Linked DNA regions of Homo sapiens. The protein of the gene in region 1 purifies or fractionates together with the protein of each later gene. This does not show direct contact. Each region holds a gene or a part of one and is shown on either strand. Other genes may lie near its edges.

What was found.
Region 2: the proteins of DDX47 (region 1) and CDC5L purify together in Homo sapiens (affinity purification with mass spectrometry; 2 studies listed by BioGRID and IntAct, with this or other methods). This does not show direct contact.

Annotation. Positions count from the first base shown.
Region 1 is NC_000012.12:12,816,026-12,819,950, forward strand, and holds part of DDX47 (probable ATP-dependent RNA helicase DDX47), read left to right. Parts: intron 1-3,925. UniProt on the Homo sapiens protein: Required for efficient ribosome biogenesis. May have a role in mRNA splicing. Involved in apoptosis.
Region 2 is NC_000006.12:44,418,577-44,422,501, forward strand, and holds part of CDC5L (cell division cycle 5-like protein), read left to right. Parts: intron 1-872; coding exon 873-1,021; intron 1,022-3,925.

The DNA.
Region 1 (3,925 bases):
ACCAGTTAAGCAAGTGGAAGGCAAGGAAGGGGTGGGGAAAATCTAAGTTTCTAGGCTGTATGTTTAGGGCATATTATTGGTGTACCACTGATACAAAAAAGGAACGGGGGAAAAATGCAGGAAAGATGAGTTCAGTTGGAAGTAATTGATTTTGGATATCAATGAGATAGAGTTGACCTTGTGGGAGGGGAATGGGGAAATGTTGCTCAGGGTACGGTTTCAGTTAGCCAGGATGGATAAGTTCTGAAGATCTATTGAATAGCATGGTGACTACAGTGAATAATGTTTTGTGTATTTGAAAATTGCTAGGAGAGTGGATCTTAAATGGTCTCCCCACAAAAATGACAAGTATGTGAGGTGACAGATATGTTAATGAGCTTGATTTAATCACTTCACAAAGTATACATGTATCTAAACTTTGCATTGTATACCATAAGTATAATTTTTTGTCAATTAACAAAACTGGGGGACAATAAAAAAGGAAAAAAATACCCAGTTGGAATCCTGGGATTGGAACTTGATTGAGAGGCCAGAGCTGGATATACACACTGTATCCAAAGAGCGGTTATAGCTGAGATTGGAAATGGATTAGATTGGCAAAGATGACAGAGGAAAATTGGAAGATTCAATAGAGGGTTGAAAATCATGAGAGTATAGTTTCACACAAATTAGGGAAGGGAAACTGTTTCAAGGAGGGATTAGTAAACACTTCAAACTTGTGCAGAGAAGTTTGGAGGATAAGGACCGTATAAAGGCCAGTGGTGGGAAAGAACTATCAGCGGCCCAGTGTTACTTTTAAATAGCAAGAAGCGTTCATGCATTTTAACTTTTCCAGCTTGCCCTACAGTGTAGGTGAGAAGGAGTCAAAATAGCTGGCAGTAATCCTAAAATTATTCTGATGTTTTCAGCCATAAGTTTAAATTTGATGCAGAAAAGAATAGGGAGGGGTCAGTGGAAGATTACTAGGAACTGACAGAAATGATCACCATAGAAATGTCTTTATCCTTATTCTTGGGTTTGTCTCATTCTAATGAATAGTTTATAAATGCTTCATTTGAATCTATAGAAATGATTCAAATAATCTGTTTGTTTTTGTTGCTGTTGTTATTCGGTGAAAATAACTTCTAAATTTGAATTTGGGACTACTGACGTTTTCAGTTTCTGCAAAGTTACTGAGCCCAGATTGTCCGCTGTTCTTAAACCTTATAACAATGCTGAATGGTAGTTACGGATAATTATTTTATTAGTGAGGAAATTGAGACTCAGGGAGTTAAGTCCTTTGGCTAAGGTCACCTAACTAATTATTGCTAGAGCCTGAATTTGAACATAGAATCTTATAGCTCAAAAAACCTCTATTAATGGACCTGCATCAAAGTTTGTTACTATCAAGAGATCAAAAGTTGTTTGATGGGCATGGTGGTTCATGCTTGTAATCCGAGGACTTTGGGAGGCTGAGGTGGGAGGATTGCTTGAGACCAGGAGTTTGAGACCTGCCTGGGTAACACATTGAGACACCATCTATTTATGTCTGTTTCAGAGATCACTTAAAGTTGTCCTCAAGGAATTTCAAACAATTTATTAGTGGCTGCCATATAGCAAGCGCTTATGTTCGGTGCCAGCAATGTGGCAGGTCTATATGACAAAATCTATTCTGCTCTTATGGAGTTTATGCATTCTGGTATATTCTCTACAGGTATAAACACTGAAAAGGCTTAGCGGTTTCTTCAGAGATGAAGAAAGGAGATGACGTAGAAAAATATATCAGTTTCACAAACTGAGGGTTGCTGTGAGGGACTTACTAAAAAACTGAAAGCAGTGCAGGCCTCAGCTGTAGGCAGTGAGCAGTGCTTATTGCTTCATGAACTAAGCGACTTCAGCTCCTTTACTTCCCTAAATCTTTCTTATGTACTCCTTTCTTCTGAAATGTTAAGATTTCCCTTGACAAAAAAAGGACAAATCCTAGTTCCCCCGCCTGCTGTTCCCGAAGGTGTATTGTGTTACACAGGCTGGGACGGCAGTATCCCCAAGGAGTTGAGGAATAAAAAGCTTTGGGAATCATTTGCTTGCACTGACCTTTATTTCTCAGATAGGTAGATGCTGTTGCAATTCATTGTTACCTACCCTGCCACTGGGAACATTAAAATAAGTAGATGAGTGAGACATTTTATCCCTGGATTGTCATTTGTCTGTAATCTTTAAAAAAATCAGTCCATTGGCTGGGCGTGGTGGCTCACGCCTGTAATCCTAGCATTTTGGGAGGCCGAGGCGGGTGGATCACGAGGTCAGGAGATCGAGACCATCCCAGCTAACACGGTGAAACCCCGTCTCTACTAAAAATACAAAAAATTAGCAGGGCGTGGTGACGGGCACCTGTAGTCCCAGCTACTCGGGAGGCTGAGGCAGGGGAATGGCATGAACCCAGGAGGCGGAGCTTGCAGTGAGCCGAGATCTCGCCACTGCACCCCAGCCTGGGTGACAGAGCAAGACTCTGTCTAAAAAAAAAAAAAATCAGTCCCATTGTCTGGTTTGACTTGTATTTCACATCTGTGCATATGCTTTTGAATGGAAAACACTGATGTTAATGAAAAGAAGGCTAAAGAATAGAATTCACTAGGATACACTGTATGTTAGTCCTTTTTCACACTGCTGATACAGACACACCCGAGACTGGGAAGAAAAAGAGGTTTAATTGGACTTACAGTTCTGTGTGTGGCTGTGGAGGCCCCAGAATCATGGCAGGAGGCGAAAGGCACTTATTACGTGGTGGCGGCAAGAGAAAATGAGAGACATGCAAAAGCAGAAACCCCTGATAAAACCATCAGATCTCATGAGATTTATTCACTACCATGAGAACAGTATTGGGGAAACCACCTCCATGATTCAAATTATCTCCCACTGGGTCCTTCCCACAACATGTGGAAATTATGGGAGTACGACTCAAGATGAGATTGGGTGGGGACACAGCCAAACCATATCACACTGTTGTCTGATCTGGCATGGCAGATCCTGGTTTAACTGATTAATGTTTAAGAGGTGGATCTTACAGGTCTGTTCTACTTGATCAGTGACATTGAACGCCACTGATCACTCTTCTTTCTTGAAGCTGCCTTCCTCCTTAATTTCAAGACAGCATTTTCTTCTGTCTTTCTAGCTGTTCTTTCTCAGTCTCTTCTTCTGGTTCTTTTCCCTTTGCCTTACAATATTGATTCTGTCTTTACCCTTTTTTCTTACTCTGAAATACTACATAACATTTCTCATTCAGTCCTCAAGCTTAAACCCTGTCTGCATCAGTGAGTCTGTATTCTTCAGAATCATCTATGGAGCTTTTTTTTTTTTTTTAAATAGAGATTTCTAGGTCCCAGCCAAGACCTACTGAATCAGAATTTCCAGGCATGGGACCGGGCATATATATATATGTAAGTCTCATCGATTATTCTGAAGCATCTGCCCCTGAGGAAGTACCAGTGGTAGGATACTCATGGCTCCCATGTCTGTTCTAACCCCCACTTTTTTCCTGAGCTCCAAACAAGTATGTCCAGCTGGTTTTTAGACATACCTCCAAATAATTATGCCCAACTGGTTTTTAGACATATCTCTAAACAAGTATGTCCAACTGGTTTTTAGACATATCTCTTTGAGTTTACTATAGGAATCTTAAGTTCCAAGTTCCCTGTGTGGAAACCAAAGTCCTTATTTTCCTCACCAGGACTAATTTTTCTGTTGCCTATATTGCAGTTTTTGGCTTTTGAGTGTCCCGTACTAAAAATGTGTGAGTCACCCACATTTCCTTTTGTTAGTTTCTGAATCTCATTCCTGTGCTCATTCCTGGCCTCAGTTCAGGCCACCATCATATCTCCCCTGAATTACATCCAATGTCCCAGTTAAGCCTTTGTTTTCCCTGTTCTGGTCATTTAAGTCATTTCTG
Region 2 (3,925 bases), on another chromosome or scaffold:
CTTCCACAATGGTTGAACTAGTTTACAGTCCCACCAGCAGTGTAAAAGTGTTCCTATTTCTCCACATCCTCTCCAGCACCTGTTTCCTGACTTTTTAATGATTGCCATTCTAACTGGTGTGAGATGGTATCTCCTTGTGGTTTTGATTTGCATTTCTCTGATGGCCAGTGATGATGAGCATTTTTTCATGTGTTTTTTGGCTGCATAAATGTCTTCTTTTGAGAAGTGTCTGTTCATATCCTTCGCCCACTTTTTGATGTGGTTGTTTGTTTTTTTTTTTTTTGTAAATTTGTTTGAGTTCATTGTAGATTCTGGGTATTAGCTCTTTGTCAGATGAGTAGGTTGCGAAAATTTTCTCCCATTTTGTAGGTTGCCTGTTCACTCTGATGGTAGTTTCTTTTGCTGTGCAGAAGCTCTTTAGTTTAATTAGATCCCATTTGTCAGTTTTGTCTTTTGTTGCCATTGCTTTTGGTGTTTTAGACATGAAGTCCTTGCCCATGCCTATGTCCTGAATGGTATTGCCTAGGTTTTCTTCTAGGGTTTTTATGGTTTTAGGTCTAACATTTAAGTCTTTAATCCATCTTGAATTAATTTTTGTATAAGGTGTAAGGAAGGGATCCAGTTTCAGCTTTCTACATATGGCTAGCCAGTTTTCCCATGATGTATAACACTTCTAATGTGATGTGTTAGATTGATAGAAGGAATGGAAACATTGAAATCTGCCATGACTGGTATTCATTTTCTCTGTTAGCTTTCATTGAGAAAATGAGTAAGGATTCTGCCTGCTTCAAGATTGGTATAGTAGGACCAGAAGAGATTCTGCAAGTCTGTCTAAACTTTTAAACTTGCTTCTTTGTCTTCTTGTTAATCAGGAAGCCCAGAACCTCATGGCCCTCACCAATGTGGACACCCCATTGAAAGGTGGACTTAATACCCCATTGCATGAGAGTGACTTCTCAGGTGTAACTCCACAGCGACAAGTTGTACAGACTCCAAACACAGTTCTCTCTACTCCATTCAGGTATTGTAAATGAACACGTTTTTATTTTAGAAAAACTTGAATTCAAGGACTTAGCATATTTGCTTTAGTAATGTTTACGGAGAATGACTACTTATTGTGTTGGATTTTCCTCTTTGATTTCTTCTTCATAGTAATAAATAATAGTGTCCAGGAAATGGTTAAATACTGTGGAGTGCCTCCCCCCCTTTCTTTAAGATGGAGTCTCGCTCTGTTACCCAGGCTGGAGTGCAGTAGCGCGATCTCAGCTTACGGAACCCCTCTGCCTCCCGGGTTCAAGCGATTCTCGTGCCTCAGCCTTCTGAGTAGCTGGGATTACAGACATCCGCCACCATGCCTGTCTAATTGGAGTGTTCTTTTGCAAAGCTTCGGATCCTATCACGTTATTTTTGAATACTTTGTATTTGATTTTAGAGTAGATTGATTCATTTTTAATGATTACTTTGTGAATTTTATTATGTAATCCTTTTATGTATGTATTACTATTGCTTTCCCTCCAGCATTTTATTATGAAAATTTCAGGCATTTAGAAAGGTTGAAAGAATGTGTGGAAGTTATCAGTATTGAAATGGAGTCATTTATGTTACATTTTAATGAAAAAGGAACCCTCATGCGCGTATGCCTATGACAGAAATTATTGCAGGGACCTTCTGAAAACCACACAAATTCCAGATAAGTTGCTTCTGTGAAGACATTGCCCTACCAACAGCCAGTACAGGTTGAGCATCCCAAATCTGAAAATCCAGAATGCTCCAAAATCCAAACTTTTTTTTTTTTTTTTGAGACGGACTTTTGCTTTTCTTGCCCAGGCTGGAGTGCAGTGGCGCGAACTCGGCTCATCACAACCTCCGCCTCCTAGGTTCAAGCAATTCTTCTGCCTTGGCCTCCCGAGTAGCTGGGATTACAGGCATGCGCCGCCATGCCTGGCTAATTTTGTATTTTTAGTAGAGACAGGGTTTCTCAGTGATGGTCAGGCTGGTCTCGAACTCCTGACCTCAGGTAATCCACCCGCCTTGGCCTCCCATAGTGCTGGTATTACAGGTGTGAGCCACTGCGCCTGGCCAAAATCCAAACTTTTTGAGCACCAACATGACACTCAAAGGAAACGCTCATTGAAACGTTTCAGATTTTGAATTTCCTGATTTGGCATGCTCAACCAGTAAGTATAATGCAGTTATCCCCAAATCTGAAAAAATCCCATATCTAAAACTCTTCTGGTCCCACATTTCAGATAAGGGATACTCTTATCTATACCGGCAATGAAAACAAATGCCACCTCCTGTGATAAGTCCCTGTAACCAATGGTCTTTGTTTCAGAACAGTTTGCGTAGACTCCTCCCTTGTATCTTTAAAAACTTCTCCTTGCCCCAGCACCCTCAGTTGTACCTATGGTCTGTCATAGCACACATATCCCACACTGTAATCCCTTGCCGTTCCCGAATAAACTCTTTGTTTTGGAGACCCGGTCTCTCACCCATTTAAGTTGACAAATGGTAAAGTGAACATCCATATACCCACCACTTAGATTCTAAGATCGTTAATATTTTACTATATTTGCTTTATCACATATCCATCCACCAATCCATCATAATTTTTAATGCATTTCGAAGTAACTTGCAGGTAGCAGTTTGTTTGATCCCAAAACACTTCCACATGCGTTAACTAGAATTCAGTATTTCTTTATAACTCTTGCTTAGTTTTAAGCTGCTGTTTTTTAAGAAGAATCTTTAAAATACAAATGTTATGGAAGCATGTAGTAGGAAAATGGAATTGGAACTTACAATGGTTGGAAATATTTGGGGTTTACTTTGAATTTTAAGTGTTAAGATATGTCTTCCTACTGGTTATTTAGTAGAGAAAGCACTTCAGGCTATTACACATATCATGACAGCAGAACCAAGAAGCATTGGCAGCCAGTCTTAAACATTTAACACTTCTTGAGAGTCTTGTAAGAGAGCATAATCCCTCATTTCCTATGTTTAGTCGGCTCTCTGTATCTGAGGATTCCACATCTGTGAATTCAACCAACTGTGGATAAAAAATATTCCAAAAAACTCAAACAGTACAACAATAACAAATAACACAAATAAAAATACAATGTACCAACTATTTATATAGCATTTACATTGTATTAGGTATTATAAGTAACCTAGAGATGATTTAAAGTACATGGGAGGATGTGCATACGTTATATGCAAATACGATGCCGTTTTATATCAGGGAGTTGAGTATCTGCAGGGAGTTGAGTATTGGTCCTGGAACCAATCCCCGGTGGATACTTAGGGACAACTGTATGTCTTGTCTCTCACCTAGATTGTAAAATCCTTGGGGGTGGGAACCATGTCTTATGTGATAACACCTTACCTATCAGGAATAGCTGTCTGGCAGCATCACCGTTCTGCAACACACCAATATACAGGAAATAGGCAACCAGGAAAAAAAAAGACTTTGAATAATTAAAATATAGGTTGCTGCAAAATCTGTGGATCTTATTCCTAGGAGAATCTCTTAGGCCTCACTCAGGAACTTACTCATGTTTAGATGTGATTTCAAAAGTGTGGTGTTTGGTTTCCAAACAAAATGTAAAAGGAGGAACTATTTAATAAAGTGTGTACATTTGTAATAATGACAGTGATAGTGATGTGAGAACCAACAGCTTGATAGGGAGGGAGGAGACAAATATACACAAAACTCAAAGAGTCATCTGGGGTCATTGAGTGTGGTGGCCCACCTCCCTGCCCACTGCATGTTCTTAGTCGCCCTAATGTGCCAAGAAAAGGTTGAAATAATGTTTAGTGGACGTAGTTTAGGAAGGCAAGAAAATATCAAATGTAGTGATTATTGTAAGTCAGTAAAATAAAAATACCATGCTAGCTAGACCAAACATTGATTTTAACCTAGAGATCC